Linked DNA regions of Homo sapiens. The protein of the gene in region 3 interacts with the protein of the main gene of each other region in a pairwise test. Each region holds a gene or a part of one and is shown on either strand. Other genes may lie near its edges.

The links.
Region 1: the proteins of BANP (region 3) and LIN54 interact in binary tests that used the Homo sapiens proteins (3 or more experiments, as listed by UniProt).
Region 2: the proteins of BANP (region 3) and PRR23B interact in binary tests that used the Homo sapiens proteins (3 or more experiments, as listed by UniProt).
Region 4: the proteins of BANP (region 3) and LAP3 interact in binary tests that used the Homo sapiens proteins (3 or more experiments, as listed by UniProt).
Region 5: the proteins of BANP (region 3) and AFG1L interact in binary tests that used the Homo sapiens proteins (3 or more experiments, as listed by UniProt).
Region 6: the proteins of BANP (region 3) and NRIP2 interact in binary tests that used the Homo sapiens proteins (3 or more experiments, as listed by UniProt).
Region 7: the proteins of BANP (region 3) and CEP76 interact in binary tests that used the Homo sapiens proteins (3 or more experiments, as listed by UniProt).

What each region holds. Positions count from the first base shown.
Region 1 is NC_000004.12:83,000,824-83,004,323, forward strand, and holds part of LIN54 (protein lin-54 homolog), read right to left. Parts: intron 1-3,500. UniProt on the Homo sapiens protein: Component of the DREAM complex, a multiprotein complex that can both act as a transcription activator or repressor depending on the context. In G0 phase, the complex binds to more than 800 promoters and is required for repression of E2F target genes.
Region 2 is NC_000003.12:139,018,531-139,022,243, forward strand, and holds PRR23B (proline-rich protein 23B), read right to left. Parts: upstream 2,397-3,713; 5' UTR 2,132-2,396; coding exon 1,334-2,131; 3' UTR 501-1,333; downstream 1-500.
Region 3 is NC_000016.10:88,034,934-88,038,433, reverse strand, and holds part of BANP (protein BANP), read right to left. Parts: intron 3,112-3,500; coding exon 3,040-3,111; intron 462-3,039; coding exon 423-461; intron 1-422. UniProt on the Homo sapiens protein: Controls V(D)J recombination during T-cell development by repressing T-cell receptor (TCR) beta enhancer function. Binds to scaffold/matrix attachment region beta (S/MARbeta), an ATC-rich DNA sequence located upstream of the TCR beta enhancer.
Region 4 is NC_000004.12:17,590,698-17,594,197, forward strand, and holds part of LAP3 (cytosol aminopeptidase), read left to right. Parts: intron 1-3,500. UniProt on the Homo sapiens protein: Cytosolic metallopeptidase that catalyzes the removal of unsubstituted N-terminal hydrophobic amino acids from various peptides.
Region 5 is NC_000006.12:108,293,624-108,297,853, reverse strand, and holds the start of AFG1L (AFG1-like ATPase), read right to left. Parts: upstream 2,801-4,230; 5' UTR 2,775-2,800; coding exon 2,636-2,774; intron 1-2,635. UniProt on the Homo sapiens protein: Putative mitochondrial ATPase. Plays a role in mitochondrial morphology and mitochondrial protein metabolism.
Region 6 is NC_000012.12:2,832,236-2,836,266, reverse strand, and holds the start of NRIP2 (nuclear receptor-interacting protein 2), read left to right. Parts: upstream 1-1,231; 5' UTR 1,232-1,283; coding exon 1,284-1,625; intron 1,626-4,031. UniProt on the Homo sapiens protein: Down-regulates transcriptional activation by nuclear receptors such as NR1F2.
Region 7 is NC_000018.10:12,689,224-12,692,723, forward strand, and holds part of CEP76 (centrosomal protein of 76 kDa), read right to left. Parts: intron 2,265-3,500; coding exon 2,136-2,264; intron 1-2,135. UniProt on the Homo sapiens protein: Centrosomal protein involved in regulation of centriole duplication. Required to limit centriole duplication to once per cell cycle by preventing centriole reduplication.

The DNA.
Region 1 (3,500 bases), on a different chromosome or scaffold from region 3:
ATTCTTTTTTTTTTTTTGGAGATAGAGTCCCAGGGTGAAGTGCAGTGGCGCAATCTTGATCTCAGCTCACTGCAACCTCTGCCTCCCAGGTTCAAGCAATTCTCCTGCCTCAGCCTCCCAAATAGCTGGGATCAAAGGCACGCGCCACCACGCCCAGCTAATTTTTGTATTTTTAGGAGAGATGGGGTTCTGCCATGTTGGCCAGGCTGGTCTCAAACTCCTAACCTCAGGTGATCTGCCCACCTTGGCCTCCCAAAGTGCTGGGATTATAGGCATGAGCCACCAAGCCCAGCCCAAAAGCAATAAATTCTTACAGAGAAAACTGTGTCTAGACATTGTGCATGATTTCATAGGATTTATGACATAACCAATGAAGAAAATCATGAAATAAATTGTGGATATGACAAAAATGGTGGGAGGTGAAGGGTTTCAAGATATGCATCTTGGGTAAGGCACACTGGCTCATGACTGTAATCCCAACACTTTGGGAGGCCAAGGTGAGGGGATCACTTGAGCCCCGCAGTTTGAGTAACCTGGGCAACCTAGTGAGATCCCATCTCTACAAAAAATTTAAAAGTTAGCCAGGTGTGGTGGTGTGCACCTGTAGTCCCAGCTACTCAGGAGGCTCAGGTGGAAGGATCACTTGAGCCCAGGAGGTCAAGGATGCGGTGAGCTATGATCACACCACCGCACTCCAGCCTGAGCAGGAGTGAAATCCTGTCAAAAAGAAAAGAAAAAGAAGCCGGGCGCAGTGGCTCACGCCTGTAATCCCAGCACCTTGGGAGGCCGAGGCAGGCAGATCACGAGGTCAGGAGATCAAGAGCATCCTGGCAAACATGGTGAAACCCCGTCTCTACTAAAAATACAAAAAAAAATTAGCTGGGCGTGGTGGCGGGCGCCTGTTGTCCCAGCTACCAGGGAGGCTGAGGCAGGAGAATGGCATGAACCCGGGAGGCAGAGCTTGCAGTGAGCGAAGATCGCACCACTGCACTCCAGCCTGGGCGACAGAGCAAGACTCTGTCTCAAAAAAAAAAAAAGGATAGGAAGGAAGGAAGGAAGGAAGGAAGGAAGGAGGGAGGGAGGGAGGGAGGGAGGGAGGGAGGGAGGGAAGGAAGGAAGGAAGGAAGGAAGGAAGGAAGGAAGGAAGGAAGGAAGGGAGGGATCTTGGAGAAATTCAAGAGCTAACAGATACCATAGCAGAGGAATTAACAGGGGACAACTTGATGGAGATGAGTGCTTCCGAACTAGTGCCAGACAATGAGAAAGAAGATGTAGAAGAAGCACAGAAAACGAACTGACAGTAGACAATCGGCATTATTCAAGACTGCTTTTGAAATTTTTTATGACATGGACCCTTCTACGATACACACAATGAAGCTAAAGCAAACAGTGAAAAAAAGCTTGCTACCACAGAGAAATATTTTTAGAGAAATCAAGCATAGTGGTGCATGCCTTTAATCCCAGCTACTTGGGAGACTGAGGCATGAGGATCGCCTAAGCCCAGGTGGAGTTCAAGACCAGCAACATAGCGAGACCTCACCTCTAAAAAAAAAGCAAGGGTGAGGGAGGAAGGAAGGAAGGAGGGAAGGAAGGAGGGATAGAAAGGAGGGAGGGAGGGAGGAGGGGAGGGAAGGAGGAAGGAGGGAGGAGGGAAGGAGGGAGGGAGGCAGGGGAAAAAAAGTTAGACAGAAATTACAATGTATTTCCATAAAGTTACATCAAGTGTGCCCACCTCTCCTGTCTCCTCATCTACCTCCTCCACCTCTTCTGCCTCTGCCACTCCAGACAGCAAGACCTACCGCTGCTCTTCCTCAGCCTCCTCAACATGAAGACAAGGATGAGGACCTTTATGATGATCCACTTCAGTTCATGAACAGTAACTATATTTTCTCCTCCTTACGGTTTTTGTAATAACATTTTTTCTCTAGCATACTTTATTGTAAGAATATGATATGTAATAAATATACAAAATATGTGTTAATCAACTATGTATGTTATCCGTAAGGCTTCTGGTCAACAATAGGCTATTAGTAGTTAAGTTTTTGGGGATTCAAACATTATATGCATATGTGGATATGACTGCTTGGGGTTGGTGTCCCTAATCCCCACATTGTTCAAGGGTCAACTGTATTTTTTGTACCTAGAGCTTACTACCAGCATTAACTGGTTAACTATACCACTTAGATTTAAGCTTTTTTTTGTGAGTGTGAGATGGAGTCTTGCTCTGTCACCCAGGTTGGAGTGCAGTGGCGTGATCTCCACTCACTGCAACCTCCGCCTCCCAAGTTCAAGTGATTCTCCCGCCTCAGCCTCCTGAGTAGCTGGGATTACAGACGTGTGCCACCACGCTTGGCTTATTTTTTGTATTTTTAGTAGACACAGGGTTTCACCATGTTGGCCAGGCTGGCCTTGAACTCCTGACCTCAATTGATCCGCCCAGCTCGGTCTCCCAAAGTGCTGGGATTACAGGTGTAAGCCACCTCGCCCGGCCAGATTTTAGCTTTTATTTCTAAAATAAAACATCAACAACTAAAAAACCAGTTATAGAACTATATTTCTCAAACTAAACTGGGAGCAGTAGACTATAAGCCATGAGTTCTGATGAAGTTTTGAAAGGTTTGTATTTCCCAGAGAAGACTGGTATGGCCCCTGCACAAGGACGACATGCAAATTTGTGAAGTGTTCCATGAAAAAAACAAATTAAAACAATAAATTTTTTCTGAGACAGAGTCTCACTCTGTTGCCCAGGCTGGAATGCAGTGGCGCAATCTTGGCTCACAGCAACCTCCACCTGGGGGCTCAAGTGATCCTCCCACCTCAGCCTCTGAAGTAGCTGGGACTACAGGTGTGCACCACCATGACTAGCTAATTTGTCTAGTTTTTCTAGAGACGGGGTCTCGCCATGTTGCCCAGGCTAGTCTCAAACACCTGAGCTCAAGCCATCCACCCACCTCGGCCTCACAGAGTGCTGGAATTACAGGCATGAGCTACTGCACCTGACCTAATTTTTTTTTAAAAAAGAAAGGTTTGTATTTTCATTTCAATAGTATTTTTATAAAGTACATTCTGGATCATCTGAATAACCACATCACATCCAAAATCAATGTACAAGAATTCAGATGAGCTAAAGAAAAAGGCACAAAATGGACTTATAAAATAAATGACATATTTATGCCAAATAAAAGCCAAACCACTTAACCTGAGATTTAAGAAAGAAAGACTTGCAGCATTCAAACACAGAAGAGTGGTGTAGAAATTGAGTCATCATAGGATATAGAGTATGTAGAAAACAGGCCGGGTGCGGTGGCTTATGCCTGTAATCCCAGCATTTTCAGAGGCTGAGGTGGACAGATTGCGAGGTCAGGAGTTTGAGACCAGCCTGGCCAATACAGTGACACCCCGTCTCTACTAAAAATACCAAAAAAATTAGCTGGGAGTGGTGGTGGGCACCTGTAGTCCCAGCTACCTGGGAGGCTGAGGCAGGAAAATCGCTTGAACCT
Region 2 (3,713 bases), on a different chromosome or scaffold from region 3:
CACCACTGCACTCCAGCTTGGGCGACAGAGTGAACCCTGTCTTAAAGTCTTTCTCTCTCTACACACACACGCACACACACACACACACACACACACACACGAACAGCCAAATTACATATAAAAGGACTAACAACTTGATTGACAGAAGACATCCTGCAACAACAAAAAATGGCAAAACAACGGGCTAATATCTTTAAAGTACTGTAGTTAAATATCATTTTAAAATTAAGAATGAAGGTGTAATTAAAACATTTACAGTCAATTCTAAGAAAGTTTATCACACAAAAACATGCTCAGACTTACAGAAGCAAGATAGTTTATCACACGTAAGACACAGTGGAAAGAAATATTAAAGGATATTCTTCACAAAAAGAAAACTGAAGCTACAGTGAAGGAGTGGAATGTAAGAATAAAAATGTAGGAAATAATTGGTAAGGCATAGTGGTAGATCTGAATAGTTATTGATGTTTTTAAATAAAATAAAACCAGCTTGTTGACATCAGCTTTACCAGTAATCTTTTATCTCCTATATAAAAATATGAGGCAACTACAGTAATAAACTAACATTTTAAAAGTTAGAAGTTTGGTTTACATGAGAAAAAACTCAGGGTAGATTTTAAAAGGTATAAAATAATGTGGAATAGCAGGAATGCAAACACTTTCCATTGGGTGAAATCACCAGATTAACAAATTAAAAAAAAATACATAACACAATGCATGCTGAAAACATCTGATAAAATTCAACACAAATTTTCATTTAGAATTAGAAGACTAGAAGAAAACTTCAGCAGGATAAGGGGTTCCTAGGAAGAAGCAACATACAGTCTTGTATAGTAAGCATACTATTTGGCAGTTTCCTTGGAGAGCAGTTGGAAAAACCCCAAGAAAAGCCATGGCTAAGTCTTCCAAAATTCATGGGAAAAAAATGCAAGGTAACTAACAACGTAAGAGATCTGGTGATTTCTTGGTTTGGGGAGAAACGGGAGTGGCAGTATGATGCTGGAGAAAGACTGGAATTTGAGAGAAACAACTGATGCAAAACGAGGGAGAATGAAGGGATCTGAATATGACCTTGTAAAGAAGCCCAGAAATCTGGACACATTTTCTGGTATCCTTGCGCAGATTTTCTATTTAAAGATGAGGTCTAGAATATACCTTTTCTTGCTGACGTCTTCATCTCCTACTATCGGTAGTGTGCAGCGAAAAAGCAATTGTCCGAACACGCGGTGCCCAATTTCCAGGTTGTTGGATACTCAATGTGAGAGATTCCCGCAATCCTAGAGGGCCTCCAGCAGAGCGGCCAGGATTGTTGTGTGTACGTGGGGGTGGGGGTCTATGCCTGGAACAGGCGTCTCCGGGCCTTGCACGGAGGGCGTTCCGGGAGCGGCGAGCGCGCGTGGGGACCTGGACTCCCCACGCACGGAGAGGGAGGTAGAGGTTGGAGAGGTGAGCTGGGGACAGGCTCCAGAAGGCGGAATTCCAGGTCAAAGATGGGGCGTGGAGAACGTCTCTCTGAACTGGGGTTGGGGGCCAGAGCACAGGGTTCTGGGATGGGGCCCTCCCGGTAGGGGATGAACATACTTCTAGAGGAGGGGTAGAGCCCAGCGGCTGAGCCGGTTGGGGAGTCCATCCGGAGCTCCGGGAACTCGGGGTCCGCGTCCTCCTCGTAGGCCTCTTCCTGGGCGGCGATCTCTGGGACAGATGCGCAGAATTCCAGCTCGACGACGACGTCCTCCCTGACAGCGCCCAGGAAAACGTCCACTTCCAGCCCGGCAGACGAGTCGTGCTGCGCTCCTGAGCGTTCGTCGACGGAGCTCAGGAGGACCTCTGGGATCAGGATGAGGGTGTGTCCACCGAGAGACACTCGCAGGATCGACGTTGGTGCGGGCTCCAGCACCAGGTCGACGTCGTCCAGGGGCACACGCAGGGCACAGCCCGCGGCCAGGACCACTATGGAGGTGAGCGCGTCCACGGCCGGGTCCCCCGCCGGGTCTTCCAGGCTGGGTGCCGCGCGGGGTTCGGGGCCCGCGGGCTCCTCCAATCGGAGGCGCTTGGCAGGGCCGGGTCCTCCTGGCTGCTGTCCCCACCAGGGAGCAGGGAAGGCGCTGGGGCTGCGGGGCCGGCTGACCATCGCCTCGACGGCGCTGTGGACGGCGCTCCTGGGCCTAGCAGCGGACGTGGGGAGCGCGGCGGTGAAGTCCTCTTTGAAGTAACAGATGTCGGTGGTAGGGGAGGCTGGTTGGGACGAGCGGGGCGCAGGACCGCGCGACGCGGGGCGAGTCCTCGGAGCTCCCGGGGCGCCTCCTGGGGGACCGTAGTCTGGGCTGCTGGTGGTGCCTCGCCGGCCACCGGGCTCAGCTTAGCTCGTTGGACCCTTGGGCCTTCCTGATGCAGACCCGGATGCGCACTGCAAAGCCAATTATGTTGTAAATGACGGCAGCGGAACCGAAGTCGCAAAATGTCACGCAATGCTCCGCCCCCTGGAGGACCCGCTCTAGAGGCGGAGGTATCCGTGCTGTCCAGTATCCGTGGCTATAATTGGTCGGACACGCTGGGGAAATACTCTTACAGGCCTCTAGGGGGCAGAATGATCAGTATAACTTATTCAGAAAAAATGATAACAACTGTAATAGAATTTCAAAGATGGCTCGCCTTTAGAACTCATGTTTTCTTGTGATTTCAGGGATTCTAGAGAAAAGACCACTCAGATCTCTCCGACCCATCCAAATGCTACATACAATTCCTTTAATGCTACTAAATTATTTCATTTTAGGAGTATTCAGAAAATACAGATTTCTACTTGGGAAAATTGATTTTAAAATTCTGAGTGAAGCTGGGAGTGGTGGCTCACGCTTGTAATCCCAGCACTTTGGGAGGCTGAGGAAGGCTGATCGCTTGAGCCCAGGAGTTCAAGACCACTCTGGGCAACATGGTGAGACTCGGTCCCTATGAAAAATTTAAAAATTCAAAAATTAGCCTGGCGTGGTGGTGCGTACCTGTGGTCCCAGCTATTTGGGAGGCTGAGATGGCAAGATCGATGGAGCCCGGGAGGTCAAAGCTGGAGTGAACCGTGGTGGTGCCACTGCACTCCAGCCTGGGCAACAGAGTGAGACCCTGTCTAAAAAAAAAAAAAAAAAAAGTGAAACATTTGTGAATAGTTTCATCCTGAAAGTTAAAAAGTTATAAAATTATTAATCATATTAAAATTTAAAACAATATTAATAAAATTATTTTTTTTTCTTTTTTTTTTTTTTTTTGAGACAGAGTCTCGCTCTGTCGCCCAGGCTGGAGTGCAGTGGCGCGATCTCGGCTCACTGCAAGCTCCACCTCCTGAGTTCACGCCATTCTCCTGCCTCAGCCTCCCGAATAGCTGGGACTACAGGCGCCCACCACCGCGCCCGGCTAATTTTTTTTGTATTTTTAGTAGAGACGGGGTTTCACCGTGTTAGCCAGGATGGTCTCGATCTCCTGACCGCGTGATCTGCCCGCCTCAGCCTCCCAAAGTGCTGGGATTACAGGCGTGAGCTACCGCGCCTGGCCGTATAAAATTAATTTTTAAATTGAACACTTATATTTCCATGATTCTTGAATTTTTTTTTTTTTTTTGACAGAGTCTGACTCTGTCTCCCAGGCTGGAGTGCAGTGGTGCAATCTCAGCTCACTGCAGTCTTGGCCTCCCAGGCTCTGGTGATCCTCCCACCTCAGCCTCCGGA
Region 3 (3,500 bases):
CTGAAATCCTACGGAGCAGCAAATGTAACCCCCAAGCCCTGCCCTCCCCCCTTCCAGGCCTGTGCATTGTCATGGTGAGGAAAGCCAGTCCTGCTCTGGGGCTCACACTGAGAGGCCTTTGCACCCTCGCTCCCTCCCGCGAGAGCCCCCATTCCTTGGCAGCACCATGGCCTGTATGTGAGAGGGGGACTGTGGCACTCACCTGACCATCCGCCCCCTTCCCATGAGAGCCCCACCCCTCGGCAGCGCAATGCCCACAATGACCGTCCCACCCCTCCCGTGAGAGCCCCACCCCTCGGCAGCGCAATGCCCACATGTACATGGGGACCAGGGCACTCACCTGACCGTCCCACCCCCTCCCCTGAGAACCCCATCCCTCGGCAGCGCAACGCCCGCATGTGCATGGGGACTGGGACACTCACCTGACCGTCCTGCCCCACGTGATGGATCTGGAGGTTGCCCTACAAAGAACGAGAGGAGGAGACGGTCATGAGTAGAAACACACCAAGACACCCTCAGACACGGCAAACACGCCAAGACACATCACAGGCCACTTGAGAATAACAAGAAAACCCCAGTTCTGCAAAAATTCAACCTCCAGTAGCAACAAAAGCCCCAAAACAAAATATTGACATTTCTAGGTACTATTTATTATTTTAAAGATGAACAAACAACTCAAAAAGCATTGTACTCATTCCCCTACCCTGACCCCAAATGAAAATGTCATTTTTACTTCATTTTTTATTTTGAAAGAATCTGACTCACAAAAAGTACAGAAAGTAGCAGAGAGACGTCCTATGTGTGTGTCGCCCAGCTTCCCCGAAGGGGGACGCCTTGCTGAGCTGTGCGGCATCACCACGCCAGGTCACGGGCTGCACGCAAGGAACCAACTCACTCAACCACAGAGCTACTAAGAGCTCTCCAGTTAGAAATTCATTTTCATTTGTTGTAAAAAGGAACTGTGTTGTCTGTCAGACCCTGCTAAATGTTTATTTGCAGATATCCTGTTTTAACAAAATAATTTTAAATGAACACGGTATGAATGTATGGTGACGAGACTGCATACTGTCACTCATCACAAAGCCATCGTTAGTATTATTAGCAATTTCTAACTTACTGCATTCAATTCCTATTGAAAACGAAAGACAATCACCTATACAAGATGGATTCAGTTTTGAAAACTGATGGATAAAACTAATAATAAAAAATTGAAATTCGAGTAGTCAAGATTTTTTTAGCATAAACTATAAAAAGCAAATGTGTGTTGTTTTTTTTCTTTTGCTGCTGTTTCAATTTTCCTGCATTTTCAATGACTCTAAGGAAATTAAGCATTCTGACGAACTTCATAGGCTTCCAGGTATTCAAGAACTCTGGCTGAGCTCTTTGGCAGTGAGCTTAGCCTCCCAGCCCACATCTGTCTGTGCCTTGAGAAGCAAACCTTCCCCTGCCCCTCAAAGGCAGCTCCTGCACTGGAAGGTGCTGCTGGGATCCTGCACCTCGCAGCCACTCAGGCCCCCAACTCCTGCACCTGACCTCGCTGAGCTGACAGGCGCATCTCCTGACATCTCCAAGGAGATGGTCCCTGACCCACCCACAGACACAGAACAGGGAAGGCCCTGCTCCTTCCTGGACACTCTGGCCTCCTGGGACCGTCCCCTACCTGCTCCCCGCCCTGCTGCTTCCTTCCATCCATCCATCTGACCACGTTTCTTAGTGACCTGGTCATGTCGCTGTGTGGATGAGCCCACTCATTCCCAGTCGCTCACGGCCCCCACATGAATTCGTTCCTCCCCTTTCACCTCATCCTCATTCCGCCCTCAGAACCCTTACGCATGTGCTCCCCTCTCAGGATAACCCACCGGGAACTGCTGGTGTCCAAATTAAAGCCACTGCCAGCAGACACGCCCGAGTCCCTGGTGCTCCACGTGCCACGGCGTGCATGTGTCCACAGTCTTGCTCACGGGCACTTGGGCAGGAGGCTCTGCGCCCGCTGTGAGTCCCCGATGGCAGGGCTTCTCTCTCCTCTGCTCCCCCACAGCACCTGCACCCAGCATGAGCTCCCAGGAGGCCTCGCACGCCAACATCTCCATGAGTCCCCTTGACCTCAGCACCCGGGCTTCCTAGTCTCTGCTGCTGGTGTGTGTGGGGAAGCCTGAGATCTTTGCAGCGACACACTACTATGCACCAAACACAAAGCTGGTGCCATTGTCACGACCTAGAAACAGCCATGTTCCTCATCCCCCAGAGCGCACCACGGTCACTGAGTACAACACGTGTGTGCTGCTTAGTGCCCTGTGCCTGCTGCTGCCTGTGCTGCAGGAAACAGCCCAGAGTCGAAGGACGGTCACCCGGGAGACAGTCCTGCTCTGGCATGCAAACATGGAGCATCGCAACAGGCTGGCCTCGGCTTTCCAAGAACTCAGACTGTCACTGCCGCCTTCACATTCCAGACCCCAACAGCAGCTGAGCCCGCACTTCTGAGTGCGTGGCCGGGTAGAGCTCCAGAAACTGAGACAATCACAGACCCAGCAGGTGCGTCAAGGGCTATGAGCAGCTCTCAGGACTGGCAGCATCACCTTGTGGGATTCCCCACCATCCCATGAAATCGGCACTAATCCCGTAGAGGCCACTAGGAAGCTGGGGCCACATGGCAGGTGAGGGGGTATGTCAGGTCACCTACGCAGGGGCAGACCCCATCTCGGCCACACTGGGGGCCTCCCCTGGCAGGAAGGGCAGGGCCAGACAGGGAGAGAAGGGTACTCAGAGGGCACTTCCAGCCAGCAGTAGAAACATCTACCCAGGAGATCTTTACCAAGACAGACCAGAAGCTGTGGAGACCAACGGACAGGAGGGGGAGGCAGAGAGGCCACAGAGACTGCAGGCCCGCTATGTGCACCCTGGAAGCGGAGTCCTGCAGCCCTTGCCCACGTTCCCTGTCCTGGGGGCTCCCTGCTGCCCTCGCACTGTGACACCGATGAAGGTCGGGAGCATGTGGGCACGGTGCCTGCAGGGACAGTGCTGCAGCGAGAGCTGACTCACCTCGCTGTCCTGCGTGATCTGGACTTGCTCCCCCTGCGGCACCTGGGCGATGTGGAGGTGTCCCTGTGGGATCCGCAGCAAGAAAAGACACCAAGAAGCATCAGAAGAAAATCAAAAGCAAAGGAAACAAGAAACATCTTCCGGAATGTTTGTTCTTGATTATCTGTTTACAATTCAAAAAGATAACTAAATCCTGAATAGTGCAATATAGTCTGTGGTCACTTCTTTAAATTAAGCTTTTGGTTCACAGTAGTCCCCCTCATCCATGAGGGTTTCAAGAAGCACCCCCTACCCCCACCACGTGGACGCCAGAAACTGTGGATGGTGCTGAACCCCATATATGCTATGCTTTTTCCCGCCCATATGTGCCACACAGCTTGGACATGCTGGACAAAGGAACGACTCACGTCCCGGGCTGGACAGAGCAGGACGACCAGACTTCATCATGCTACTACTCAGAA
Region 4 (3,500 bases), on a different chromosome or scaffold from region 3:
AGTAGCTGGGACTACAGGCCCCCGCCACCATGCCCGGCTAATTTTTTGTAGTTTTAGTAGAGATGGGGTTTCAGCTTGTTAGCCAGGTGGTCTCGATCTCCTGACCTCGTCATCTGCCCGCCTCGGTCTCCTGAACTGCTGGGATTACAGGCGTGAGCCACTGCGCCTGGCCACTAAAGTGTGTATTATAAAAACAATACAGCAAACACAATTTAGAAAGTTAAACTTTTTTTTTTTTTTTTTTTTTTTTTAGTAGAGACGTGGTCTTGCTATGTTGCCCAGGCTGGTTTTGAACTTCTGAGCTCAAGCAATCTGCCTGCCTTGGCCTCCCAAAGTGCTAGGATTACAGGTGTGAGCCACCACACCCAGCCTAAACTTTTGTTTTGTTTTGTTTTTTGAGACGGAATCTTGCTCTGTTGCCCAGGCTGGAGTGCATTGGCGCAGTCTTGGCTCATTGCAACCTCTGCCTCCTTGGTTCAAGTGATTCTCCTGCCTGAGCCTCCCGAGTAGCTGGGATTACAGGTGCCTGCTACCACTCCTGGCTAATTTTTTTTGTATTTTTAGTCCCGAGTAGCTGGGATTACAGGTGTCTGCCACCACGCCTGGCTAATTTTTTTCTATTTTTGGTAGGGATGGGGTTTCACCATGTTGGCCAGGCTCGTCTCAAACTCCTGATCTCGTGATCCCCCCACCTTGGCCTCCCAAAGTGCTGGGATTACCGGTGTGAGCCACCACACCTGGCCCTAGACTAAATGTCTTGCCAATTGTGACACAAATATTTTTATGCTAAGGGTGAAGTTTATTGTTAATTTAAGTCCACATTTGTAATTTTTGCTGAGAATAAAAACAAAGAGGCCTAAACCCAAAGCCTTCTTTGGGTTTAGAGAAGGTTTCCTTGCAGGAGTGTCAGTTTTAGCTGAAGATGTGAAGAATCAGGAGGAATTAGCTCAGGAGAGACTAGGGACAGGCATTCTAGTGCAGGGAAACATGGTGAAGGCTGTAAGGTGGGAAGGAGCAGGGTAAATTCCTGGTATGGCAAGAGTACCAGTGTGCCTGCACACAAGAGCGTGATGGAGAGAAGGGGCAAGATACGGCTAGAGAGGTACACAGAAGCTTGGTCGCTGCGGGCCTGCTTAGATTTTTGCACTCTGCTCTGAGAACAGTTGGCCGTAACTGAAGGGTTTCCACCAAACAGAATGACGTGAGATTTATACATACAGTGAAATTCACCCTCTAAGTGGCCAGCTCAATGAGTTTTAACAAATGTGTGCACCTTGGGGGGGTGCAGTGGCATACACCTGTAATCTCAGCTACTTGGGAAGCTGAGGTAGGAGGATTACATGAGCCCAGGAGTTCAAGAGCAGCCTGTGCAACATAGTAAAACACCATCTTTAAATAAATAAATAGATAGATTAGATAGGTAGATAGATTGATTTTAAAAACCAAAGAACAAATGTATACACCTATGCACCGTTCACCACTGTCAGGAAAATACAACATTTTTATCATCCCCCAGAAGTTCCCTTCTGCCTTTTTGTAGTCATTCCCCACCTGCCCTTGCTCCAGACAGCCGATCATCTTCCTATTACTGCAGATTAGTTTTGCCTATTCCGGAAAGTCATATAAATGCAGTCTTTGATGTCTGGCTTCTTTCAGCGTAGTATCTGGGGTTTATCTATGTTGTTGGTCATGTCAGCCATTCTTCTTTTCTATTGTTGAGTAGTGTTCAATTGTATGGAAATGCCAAATTTTGTTTACCCATTCATCTATTGGTGGAAATTTGTGTTGTTTCCAGTTTTAGGCTATTAGGAATAAAGTTAAGAGCATCTGTAAGCCTTTGTGTGGACGTGTTTTCCTTACTCTTGCGTAAATACCTAGGAAAACAGCCACTGTGTTGTATAATAACTGAGTGTTTAACTTTTAAGAAACTACCAAACTTTTCCAAAGCGGGTACATTTTCACTTCTACCATCAATGTACAAAGATTCTAATTGTTCTACACCTTCCTCAGTATTTGATATTGTCAGTCTTTATAATTCTAGCTGTACCAGTGAGTATACAGTGATCTCTCTTTGTGGTTTAATTTGCATTTCTCTAGTGACTAATGAAGTCGGTCATTTTTTATTTTTTGAGACGGAGTCTCGCTCTGTCACCCAGGCTGGAGTGCACCTCGGCTCACTGCACCTCCGCCTTCTGGGTTCAAGCAATTCTCCTGCCTCAGCCTCCCGAGTAGCCGGGACTATAGGCACACACCACCATGCCTGGCTAATTTTTGCATCTTTAGTAGAGACGGGTTTTCACCATGTTGGCCAGGCTGGTCTCAAACTCCTGATCTCAAGTGATCTGCCTGCCCCAGCCTCCCAGAGTGCTGGGATACAGGCATGAGCCATCACACCCAGCCAAAGCTGGGCATTTTTTAATGTGCTTATTGGACATTGGTATATCTTCTGTAGTAAGGTATTCAAATCTTTTGCCCCTTTTTATAGGAGTGTTGGCTTTACAGAATTGTAAGGTTTTTTAAAAATATATTTCATTTTAAGTGAGTTTTAGATTTTGACGCTATGCTTCACTTTGAATCTTTGTGTATGGTGTGAAAAGACCTGGTTTGTTTTTGTCTTTTTTTTTTCCTATGTGGCTGTTCATTTACTTCTGCACTGTTTGTTGAAAAGACTGTCCTTTCCCCACTAGACTACCTTGGCACCTCGGGTGGAAATCAGTTGTCCATATAATTGTAGGTCTGCCTCTGGGCTCTGTATCCTTTCACCAGTGCCTGAAGACCAAATATCTTGATTACTGCAGCTTTGAGTAGGCTTGAAATCTAGTCACATGAGTCCTCCAGCTTTGCTCTTCTTTTTCAGAATGACTTTGGCTACATCCTTTGCATCTTCATATACATTTTAGAATCTGCTTGGGTTTTTTTTTTTTTTTTTTTTGAGACAGTGTCTCACTCTGTTGCCCAGGCTGGAGTGCAGTGGTGCAATCTTGGCCCACTGCAGCCTCGACCTCCCTGGGCTCAGGTGATCCTCTCACCTCAACCTCCCGAGTAGCTGGGACTACAGATGCGAACCACTATGCCCAGCTAATTTTTGTATTTTTTATAGAGATGGGGTTTTGCCGTGTTGCCCAAGCTGGTCTCGAACTCCTGGGCTCAAGTGATTTGCCTGCCTCAGCCTCCCTAAGTGCTGGGATTACAGGCGTGAGCCACCACACTCGGTGAATCTGCTTGTTTTTTCACACAACAAAACCTACTGAGATTTTGATTGAGATAGATTTTGTGTGTGTGTAAAAATGTGCTGTTTTTATGGTTAATGAAATGACAGTGGTGAGACTGATACAGAAAGACCCGTTAAGGAGACCTGACAAACATCCAAATGACAGAGGGTAGTAGCATCAATGAGGGCGGCTGAGTAGAAAATAAGTGGGTGGATTTGAGAGAGATTGAAAAAGTGAGCCAAAGCTGATTGCTGATCTTTAACTGGTGGCTACCTTAGAACCATAGTC
Region 5 (4,230 bases), on a different chromosome or scaffold from region 3:
AGGTTCTCACTCTGTCACCCAGCCTGCAGTGCAGTGACGCCATCTCTCTCAGCTCACTGCAGCCTCGACTTCCTGGGCTCAAGTGATCCTCCCACCTCAGCCTCCCAAGTAGCTGGGACTACAGGCGTGCACCACCACACCCGGCTAAGTTTTGTATTTTTTATAGAGAGGGGGTTTTGCCATGTTGCCCAGGCTGGTCTCAAACTCCTGAGCTCAAGTGATCCTACTCCCTCAGGCTTCCAAAGTGCCAGGATTACAGGTGTGAGCCACCACACCCAGCCACATTACACTGTACTAAATAGTAGACTTCAAAAGATGAAAAATGAAGGTAAAATAGAAATGTACCCCCCCAAAAAAACAGGAAAGGGATAGAAAATCGATTTGTAAATCAGACTCTGAATACTGAACAAAATTTCAACTAAAATTTTCCTTTTATTTAAAGATGGGGGCAGGGCACCATGGCTCACGCCTGTAATCCCAGCATTTTGGGGGGCCGAGGCTCCGGATCACCTGAGGTCAGGAGTTTGAGACCAGCCTGCCCAACATGGTGAAACCCCATCTCTACTAAAAATACAAAAACTAGCCAGGCGTGGTGGTGGGTGCCTGTGATCTCAGCTACTAGGGAGGCTGAGGCAGGGAGAATTGCTTGAATCCAGGAGGTGGAGGTTGCAGTGAGCCGAGATTGTACCATTGCACTCCAGTCTGGGAGACAGAGCAAGGCTCTATCTCAAAAAAATAAATAAATAAACAAAATAAAAATAAAGAGGGGAAGGGAGCGTCCTTAGATACAATTAAATGGACCTCTAACCTAACTGCATTTTCATCAAATCTTCACACCCAGAATTGGCTAAATTTTGTGTATTGGAGAAAGTGTGAGTATAGATTAATAGCACAGCCTTCACTTGAATCCAGTTCTGACACTTACTAGCCATATAACTTCAGCAACCTTGGATTCATGATCTCCAAAATGAGGATAATGAGGAATAATAAGATAATGTATGTAGAAAGTACTTAGTATATTGTATGACACAGAATAAGCATTCAGTGAATTTTATATGTTATAATGATGCTCCTTAAATCTTTAATGTTCATAAATCATGGTATATACATAGAATGGAATACTATTTTTAAAACTTAAAACACGAGGCAGTTCTATTCATATGAAATTGATATGGTATTGATATGGAATGATCTCCAAGCTACTAAATTTAAAAAGAAATTAACAATTAACAGAATTAACTGCTGTATACACAAAACAATGTGTACAGCATGTTACTACTTCTATTTTTTTAATACCATTATCTATATATGTATATGCTTATACATACACAGAATATATCTGGAAGAATACATAAGAAACTAGTATCACAGATTGCCTCTGAGGAGAAAAACTAAGCAGCTAAGGGATAGGGATAGAAAAAAGCCTTACATTTTGCCATATTCTTTCTTGCACCTGTTGAAATTTATAGCATTTGCTTTTATTGACTACCAAAAATGAAAAATAAAATTTATATTATAATCCACAGCTTACACTACCAGAATATTCCATTATATCTTTATTTATTTATTTACTTTTAACGACTACTCCAGCAGATCAGGGCTACCCCCAGGCAGTGTGTGGAGCCTATTCCATTATACTAAATGCATTATGCTAATCTTTGCAGAAAGACGTAAGGTGACCTAATCAAAGTTCTAGTATTAATTTCAACTGCATTGATGATAAGGGTCAAAGATTGTCATATTTTTAGCTAAATTAATAAATAATCTATTAAGGTATATACCTTATTAAGGTCTATCAATCTATTAAGGTATATTACAGGGGTTGCTTGGATTTGAGAAAAAGGAAAACGAGTATGTGGATGAGGGAGACAAGGAGAATAATTTCATTCATTCATTCACTCAAAAATCATATTTGCACGTCAAGTACCAATCATTGCGCTAAGTGCTTAGGAAACAATGACACAATGTCCTTGCCTTTGAAAATCGTGCAGTTTAGTGCGAATACATGAATAGAGCAGTAAAACTGGCACTCTTGGTTACTCAGAATATACATTCATTCATTCATTCATGAACATATAACTGAATGAAGGAAGCCAGGGAGAAAGAAAGCCCGGTGACAAAATAATTCCACTGAAGCCCCTAGTGACTTGAAAAGAACACCAAGAATCGATCCCTCAATCTGAGAATGTGTGTGGACCTTCCTTCCTAGAATCACGAGAGACATCAGGGCCTGCAGAGGTCCCAGGCGCGGCTCTTCCTCCAGTGCCCGTCAGTCACCAGCCCCGAGAGCTTGGAAAACGCAGAGGGTAGGGGTCCCCAGGCCCCAACCCCACACCTGCATCTCTTCAAGCCAGGCACTCCCACTAGGTTCAGCTCTCTAAACGTCCCGGAAGGAACAAACTCTGAGTCAACCTCTGACCCTCAAAATGAAAGTCACTCAGGGTCATTTCCCTCAGTGCTCAGGGCTCATTCACAGACAGTATAAAAGGTCAAGAGAAATGGAAACTCCTCTCGAGGAGCCCTCAGCTTCGTGAAAGCAGGAGACACCTGGGGTAGATCGGACAGGGAGGGTAATCCCAGAGGCTTCTCCAGTCATATGCAGTCGGCTCGGACTACTCATGGCACAGTCACTGACCTTTCCAAAAGGGCTTCCCAGGGGCGGTGGCCAGAGGAGCGAGAGCGGCGGCCCAGGCCCCGCACCCAACACATCTCCCTCTCAGCGGGCTCTGTGCTAAGGGGCGCAGGGTAACCAAGAGCGACCAGGAGGCCGCCATCTTGAACTCCGTACGAGGAGAGGAAGAGGAAAACTTTATTGGAACCCAGAAGAGAGACGGTGGCAAAGTCAAACCCCGCCGTGCACGCTGAAGGCTCCACCCGAGAGAACCAAGGGATCAGTTAGGGAACGTGACCTCCAGTAGCCACATGGGCGGGCTGCACTCCCGTGCCCTCCCGTCCTTCCGGACGCTGCCAGCCGGGACTACGACTCCCAGCATGCAGTGGGGTGGGGCGGGGTGGAACGGAACAGGCAGCTCCAGTCTGGGCAGTGGGAGGGAGGGCGATTCTCCGCCCGGCGCTGGCGGCCGGCCGAGGAACCCGAAGTTTTCAAGGAATTGGGAAGTGATTATGACGGGTAGGCAGGTAACCACTCTTGAGCCTTTTAAGTTAGCTCACATGACCGAGATTCCGAAACCTGAATAAAATGGAGGTGACCCAATGGGCCCTCGGGTTTTAACGGAAGAGTGGTGTCACTTCGTCACACCTCCCTAAATGGTAGGCCCATTTTTTATTTTATCTCCAGCGTCCAACTCATCTTTGACGAGTACCTGAAATGTGCGCCTACCGCTTTCCCTTTTCGTATTTGAATAATATAAATGGTACGCACTCAAATGTTTTGAAAGATTGTATAAGTGGCATGGGAAAGCCAAGGGCCTAAGAAGGACTGTCGGTGGACGGAGAAGTCATGGGACAGTGTATCCGAAGGGTAACTTCTCATTGATCTGCCCTAATTTGATTAAACAATAAATGCTTTGACATACTATAATAAGCGAATTAGGAGTACAAATTGCTGTCCAGAAGAGGCTGGCAATCCAGTAAGCGAGATGAATTCCAGAAAAGATAATACAGGCCGGGCTAGGTGGCTCATGCCTGGGAGGCCCAGGCAGGAGAATCGCTTGAGCCCGGGAGTTTGAGACCAGTCTGGGCAACATAGCGAGATCCTGTCTCTGCAAAAAATACAAAACTGGGCATGGTGGCCTGTGCCCTGTAGTCCTAGTTACTAGGGAGGCCGAGGTGGGGGTTGCGTCCAGGAGGTGGAGGCTGTAGTGAGCTGGGATTGTGCCACTGCACTCCTGCCTGGGAGACAGAGTGAGTCCCTGTCTCAAAAAAACAAAAAAAAAACAAAAAAAAAAAAAAAAAGAGAAGGCCCGGCGCGGTGGCTCACGCCTGTAATCCTAGCACTTTAGGAGGCTGAGGCAGGCGTATCACCTGAGGTCAGGAGTTCAAGACCAGCCTAGCCAACATGGTGAAACCCTGTCTCTACTAAAATACAAAAATTAGCCGGCATGATGGCAGGTGCCTATAATCCCAGCTACTTGGGAGGCGGAGGCAGGGAGAATCGCTTGAATCCGGGAGAGGGTGGCTGCAGTGAGTCGAGATCGTGCCACTGCACTCCAGCCTGGGCAGCTGAGCGAGACTCTGTCTCAAAAAAAGAAAAGAGAAGAGGAGGGGAGG
Region 6 (4,031 bases), on a different chromosome or scaffold from region 3:
CCTGGAGAGGATGTGGAACCTCAGGAGCCCCTGTGTGCAGCTGTCTCAGTGTGCACTGGTAAAAACACTCTGGCAATATGCCAAAAAGGCAAAGCTGTATATGGGATGCCCCAGCAATTCCACTCCTAGGTGTAGGTGTATACTCTAGAGAAATGCCTACATAGGTGCCCCAGGAGATGTGTGCAAAAATATTCATAGCAGCATTGTTTGTTAGACCTAAAAATGAAAAATAACCTACATTTCCTCAATGTCATGCATGCATCTAATGGAATACTATGTTACACAGCAGGTGAAGTCAATTAACTAGAGCTGGGCATACCGTATGGATGAATCTCACTAACAAAAACTATTCAGCAAAAAAGAGCAGATTGCAGAAGAATAAATACAGTGAGTAGGACAAAACCAACGACATATTGCTTAGAATGCATATGTAAGTATTTGCATAAAGAATATAAAGAAGTCTGGGCCTGATAAACACCAATTTCAGCAGGCGGAAGTGGAAGTGCACAGGGAGCTTCAACAGCTTATTTTTTAAACTGGTGATGAGTGAAGAGTACTGGTTATCTTATTCTTTATAACTTCTGTATATTTGAAATGCAACATTTTTTAAAGAGCCAGGACTTGAGGAGAGTCATATAAAGGAGACTGAGATGCCAGGGACAATTTCTACTCGTGGGAAGATTCAGAGTTGTTCCTGTCATTCCCTGGAACCCAGAATCCAGAGTCAATTAGTTAAAGACTCTGACATCTGCTAGGCGGGAGGCAAGAGACCTAACAAGGTAAGGCTAGGGGGATGAGAGGAGGGAAGGACGCTCTCATGCTGCCCCTCTTTGATCTGAACCCAGTTACTGGCCTGCGCGCCAGCCCTGGGCTGCAGATAATGCCAGGAGAAAACAGCTGGGCAGTCCTGGGAAGCCTGGGAGGGATGCAGAGGAGGGCGGGGGCCACACACGCTGGGAGGTGCACTAAGGCTGCTGCCCCCACACAGTGACAAGCGCTTCCTCGCAAACCACCTGGCACGGGCACCCTGACAGTTTACAGCACTGTCTCTCACTCTCCTTCTCTCTCTCTCTCTCACACACACACACACACACACACACACACACATACGCCCCATCCACCGCCCGCTCTGACCAGGACCCCAGCGTTGGGGATGCGGCCAAGTCAGCCAGCTGTGGGCCCTGCCAACCCTCCCTCTCTTCTAGGACTGGGTTTTTCCAGCCGGAGTCTCACTCCCTCTACAGCAATCTCGGGAAATTGGAGACTGACGCGGCTGCTCCTGCATGTTATTTATTTTTCCTCTTTCCCTCCCGTGGAGACCCTCCTGTTGGAAAGAGAGCTGCAGCACGGGACAGAGACAGGCAGGAAGAAGCAGAGAGGACTCGGTGACGCCCCCACCGAGCAGCCCCTGGCCCACTCCTCCAGCAGGGGCCATGAGCACCAAGCAGGAGGCCAGGAGAGATGAGGGAGAAGCCAGGACGAGGGGGCAGGAGGCACAGCTTCGAGACCGAGCCCACCTGAGCCAGCAGCGCCGGCTCAAACAGGCCACCCAGTTCCTGCACAAGGACTCGGCCGACCTGCTCCCGCTGGACAGCCTCAAGAGGCTCGGCACCTCCAAGGACTTGGTGAGGCATCACCCCTCCCCTGCCAGCGTCCCCTGGCCTTTTCCTTCCACTTCCCAGATCCTGAGCAGGAGGCAGGACCAGAAAGTGCAGACCCTCAGCTTTCAGGTCCCGCTCCCTTGCTGAGATGGGGAGAGGTCATCCTGCCAACTCAAGGCTCTTCACCGGGGATGTTCCCATGGTTTGGTGGCTCTGAGGGTTCCTATTCTCTCATTGCTTGGCTTCCCTTTTTCCTCTAATGGCCCCAAACTTGAGGGTGGTGAGGAGCTAGGCTGTTTAGAAGTGGGGGCTTACAGGAACACAGGAACCCTCTAGAGTGGTCACTTACAACCAGGAGGGCCTGGAGGACTGGCCAGTTTAGGGTTGTGACTTCCTGCTTCCCCCGAACCACAGGTTCCCCAGACCAGGTCTGTCTATCCACTTGTCCTTTCTCCTCAGAATCAAAACATCGGGGGTCTCCATCCTTCCCAGGGCATCAGGGTTTTGTGTGGCTCTTGCCGGGGGCCCCTGGCCGCCTTGAGTGCTGCTCCCCCAACTCCTGAGTGGAATGGACCTTCCAGGCTCCTCTCCTCCCATCCCATGTCTGCAGCAGCTTTGGCCTCAGAGGAATGGGGCAGGGGAGTAACAGTGAGGATGTGAGTGGGCGGCGGAAAACTGCAGATTCAGGCATTCCCCTCTGAGAGGCAATGCTGACAAGCGGGGCTGCGCAGCCACTTCGCTTGGGATCAGATCCTGGCTCTGCCATTTACTAACTTGTGCAATTGACTTTACGTCTCTGTGCCTCAGTTTCTTCATCTGTTAAATGAGAATCAAATCAATCATAGGATTGTTGGGAGAGTTGTTAGAGCTAATATATTTAAAGCACTTAGAACAGTGCCTAATAGCAGGCACTATCTAAATGCTATTATTATTATTCCCCCAGCTATTACTCCATTTAGTCTGAGAAATATTCCTGGCCTCTGACCCGTGGAAGAGAGGAAATCCTTTGTAGAAAGGCTTGGGAGCACTCGGTTCCCTGTCCCCTCTCCTAGTCTGAGAAGAGGTACTCAACCAGGCCTGTACTGACAGGTTGGAAGCATGTCTGCAGGCCTGTGCTCCACCAACTGCTTCTCCCCGGGAACCTGAAGGCCAGTGCAGCACCTCGCCTTTCCCTACTTAGCTCCACCTTTCCAGACTCCTCTCAGCCTGGGTTGCCCCCACCAGGACCACAGCCCAGAGGTCTGGCAATTCCCTAGCTCCCAACGAGAAAAGGGATTGCACTGAGACTTAATTCAGGGAACTGCCAGGGGCTTATTCCTACTTGCAGTGGCAGCAAGCATAGCTGAAAAACAGGGATGGAGCAGGGAAGCGGGTTCTTCGGCTCTCAATGGCTGGAACCTACTGGGGACCATCCTACATGTGTTTGGCCCCAGGAGAAGGTGCTCTACTGACATTGCCATCCCGGAGTGGCAGGTCCCGCCTTCTAATGAGAAAGTCCCGGGCTTTTCACCTCTCCCCTCTGCCTAGGATATCCCCAATTGATCCCTAGCAGTTACCTCCTATGGCTCTGGGAGCAAAGGCACAACAGGCAGGGAAGACCCCATCGTCTCCCTCCCTGGGATGGCTGAGGAGCAAACTGCACAACAGCGGGAGGGGCCTGAAGCCTGTGTTCATCGTGGGAAGGTGGAAGATGGGAAGTGCAGAGCCAGTCTCTCCAGCCAATCCCAGAGCTCGCTGAACTTTTCCCAGCACTGGGTCTACTGCTGGCAGCCTTGCTGCCAGGAGCAACCCCAAGGGCCTCATTAATCTAAGGGTAGAAAAACAATCCCAGGATCCCAAGGAGAGAGGGCAGGTGGAGAGGTGCATAGAGCCTGGGGGAAGAGTCAGTCTGCAGCAAGCATTTATTGAGTGCCTACTAGATGCTGAGCCATGCCCTGGGATATAAAAATGAGTGAGGTAGACTCAAGCGCTCTCCAGGCTAATGGGGGAGTAAAATCCATACATAACATTTGTGAGAAGCATGGAAAAGGGAGCTAAGACAAGGGACCCCAGCTTGGCGTGTATGGAGAGAGGAGCATGAAGAACTCAGAGAGGGTATCCTGGAGAGGGTACATCCTGCATTATAGGATGTACACAGAATCTCAAACTTAAGATACAACCTCTCTCTCAAATAAAGTGTGTTAAGCCAGTCATCCAGTCTAGCCTCGAGAAGAGTGAGGAAGAGGAGTTTCAGGAAGAGAGGAGAGAGGAGAGAGGAGTGAAGACATGGAGGCAAAAAGCGGCCTGGTATGAGCGGTGCTTCTGGGGCCCATAAACAGAGTGGCAGGGAAGGAGGCACGGCCCGGTCATGTGGACTGTGGATCACCTTCAAAAGCTTGAGCTCTATCATGAAAGCAATGCGGGGTAGGGTGGGGGGTCTTTGATGCATTT
Region 7 (3,500 bases), on a different chromosome or scaffold from region 3:
TTAGATTGACTGTTTTACACTGTTGTTGTTTAATTTCAGAACTAGTCAAATACAGGAAGCAGCAAGAAACAGTTCTGAGGAATCTAAATTAAATCAGCATTTTATTTACTCTATGTATATGGAAAGAGGTGGCATAAACCAAAAAGGCACCAGTTGAAACTCCAATTTGACACAGACTTTGCCATGACTGAGTTGCTGTTTGGCCTTGAAAAGACTGTTCACTTCTCTAACCTTCATACTGTTTACAAAAAGAGCCAATGCCTGGCCACTTGACAATCTTATATGGTTACTATGAGACTAAATTACGTTCTATGGTTCAAATCTTAAAATGAATTCTGAGAGAGGAAGTCGTTTAAGTAATATTTCCTAAAAGAAAATCCCACTTCCTTGACTTCCTTAGTGCATTTCAACTTCTTCCTCCTCTTTGATCCTGCCATTTCTCTGATTCACTGCCTCACTCCATCCTGAGTCCTCTCTAGTTCCTAATTCCACGTGGCAATGAATAAATGCCTCAGACTATATAGACAGCAGGGAGCCAGTTTATATATATATATATGTATATTTTTTGTCGTTGTTATTGTTTTGAGACAGAGTCTCACTCTGTTGCCCAGGCTGGAGTGCAATGGCGTGATCTTCGCTCACTGCAACCTCCGCCTCCCGGGTTAAGCAATTCTCCTGCCTCAGCCTCCTGACTAACTGGGATTATAGGTGCCTGCCACCAAGCCTGGCTAATTTTTGTATTTTTAGTAGAGACAAGGTTTCGCCATGTTGGCCAGGCTGGTCTCAAACCCCTGACCTCAGAGGATCCACCTGCCTCGGCCTCCCCAAGTGCTGGGATTACAGGCGTGAGCCACCGCGCCCGGCCAGGAAGCCAGTTACATTTTGATTGGTTTCTCCTTGCCTTTGTCCTGATAATGTTGTTACCTTGCCAACCAGTCATTCAATATATAAACAACGCTATCAGAAAGTCAGAAGCCATTTCCCTTATTCCCACCTCTAGTCAACCTCTCATTCCCAAGCTCCCCATCTGGACACTAAACCACTTTTAGCCTGTTCCAAAATCTAGGGAAAGTAGGGTAAAGCTGGATGAATGTACAGGATTTGAGAAACTTAACTTAAAATAATATACTACACTATACTTATATGAAAGCATCTGTATGAGGCTGAATATATACAAAATATTTGAACTGTTCCTTAGGAGTTACAAAAAATACGTGAACCTGACCACATTTTTTGTTGTTTTTTTTTTTGAGACGGAGTCTTGCTGTGTTGCCCAGGCCGGACTGCAGTGGTGCGATCTCGGCTCACTGCAAGCTCCGCCTCCCGGGTTCACGCCATTCTCCTGCCTCAGCCTCCCGAGTAGCTGCGACTATAGGAGCCCGCCATCACGCCCGGCTAATTTTTTGTGTTTTTAGTAGAAACGGGGTTTCACCGTGTTAGCCAGGATGGTCTCGATCTCCTGACCTCTTGATCCACCCACCTCGGCCTCCCCAAGTGCTGGGATTACAGGCGTGAGCCACCGCGCCTAGCTGACCTGACCATATATTTTATATTGGTCTGTTAAAGAGAGAAAATGGGTTTAGGACTCAGGAAAAATGGAGGCAGAGATATATAGTTGAAATGCTTCAGTTAAACATTACTGGTCACTGGCTTAGAAGTCGTGGTTATATACAATTTTTTTTAAAACCCTAACAAAAAATATATATATGCCCAGAGCCCCCCCCCGTTCTGCACACAAGAGCTGGATTTACATATAACCTGCAAAGTGTCCAAATGGTTAATTATTTAGCACTAAGTATCAAGCAAATACACATTCCAAGTTAAACAAAATGGATTTTCATCTACTTTAAATCAAATATATTCAGAAAGGGTTTAAAACACAATAATTGATTCAACCTGAGAAAGGTGATTTTTCAAAAACCCACAATAACTGAAATTGAAAGTAAAATAAGACATAGATTGATCTTGCCACTCACTATGCAGTGAAAGAGAATATTACAAAATCAGCATTTTATTTTACAAATACACTTTTATTTTTTGGAATACATTTTACAAATAAATATTAAATGAAATTTACACACATAACAGTAAATCTCAAATACAGGCATAAAATTATTCTAATATAATTTACAAACCTGTGCAAAAATCTTAACCAGTCGTGAGTTGTGTGAGGGTCGAATTTGCAAATATTCTCTCCACCACTGCTTAGCATATACAAGAAATAATCGCTCTTTCTCTGCAGTTTTCTGACGTTCCAAAGCAAGCTTGAAATTGAAAAAAATATTTTTCAATTTCTATTCATTATCTTTAATTACTACAAAATATGTAGCAAATTTATCTACTTCTCTACATCATTACCACCCTAATCTGAGTCATCATCATCTTCTATAAGAGCCTCCTGACTTCCCTATTTCTACACTTACCCCTAGTACAATCCCATCTCCATACAATAATCATAAGTCACCTTTTTTTCCTCAAAGACAGAATTTTTTTTTTTTTTTTGGTTGTGGAGGATGCAGTCTTGCTCTGTCGCCCAGGCTGGAGTGCAGTGGCAAGATCTCAGCTCACTGCAACCTCTGCCTCCCATGTTCAAGCAATTCTCCTGCCTCAGCCTCCTGAGTAGCTGGGACTACAGGCACGTGCCACCACACTCAGCTAAATTTTTTTTTGTATTTTTAGTAGAGACAGGGTTTCACCACATTGGTCAAGCTAGTCTTGAACTCCTGAGCTCATGATCCGCCCGCCTTGGCCTCCCAAAGTGCTGGGATTACCGCGCCTGGCCCAGAAATTTTTAAATAGTAAATCATACAAGCCGGGCATGGTGGCTCACGCCTGTAATCACAACATTTTGGGAGGCCAAGGCAGGTGGATCATTTGAGGTCAGGGGTTCGAGACCAGCCTGGCCAACATGGTGAAACCCCATCTCAACTAAAAATACAAAAACTAGCTGGGGATGGTGGTACATGCCTGTAATCCCAGCTACTCGGGAGGCTGAGGCAGGAGAATTGCTTGAACCCGGGAGGCAGAGGTTGCAGTGAGCCGAGTTCATGCCACCGTGCTCCACCCTGGGCGATAGAGTGAGACTCTATCTCAAAAAAAAAAAAAACATACTGTCATTCTCTTGTTAAAACACTTCATTCTCCATCACATTGCAAAATACCTGCCCTGGCCTATGAACTCTGGCCCGACTATCTCATTTTCTCCTCTCTCCCCAACCCACTACGCTCTAGCCACACAGGGCTTTCGGTCCTCCATAGGGGCTTTTGTTCTAGGCTGTTCCCAGTGCTGGAAGCTCAGCCCCAATCTTTGCATGGCTGGTTACTTCCTGTTGTTCAGACTCTTTCCCTACCTTAGTCACTCGACCTATAATTAGCCACCCAATAACCACTGTATCATATCACCTGTAATAATTCTCCATAAAACACCTTCTACTATCTGATTATTTTGTTTGCTGACTTATTGTTTCTCCTGCACTAGAATCTAAACTCCTTGAGAGCAAG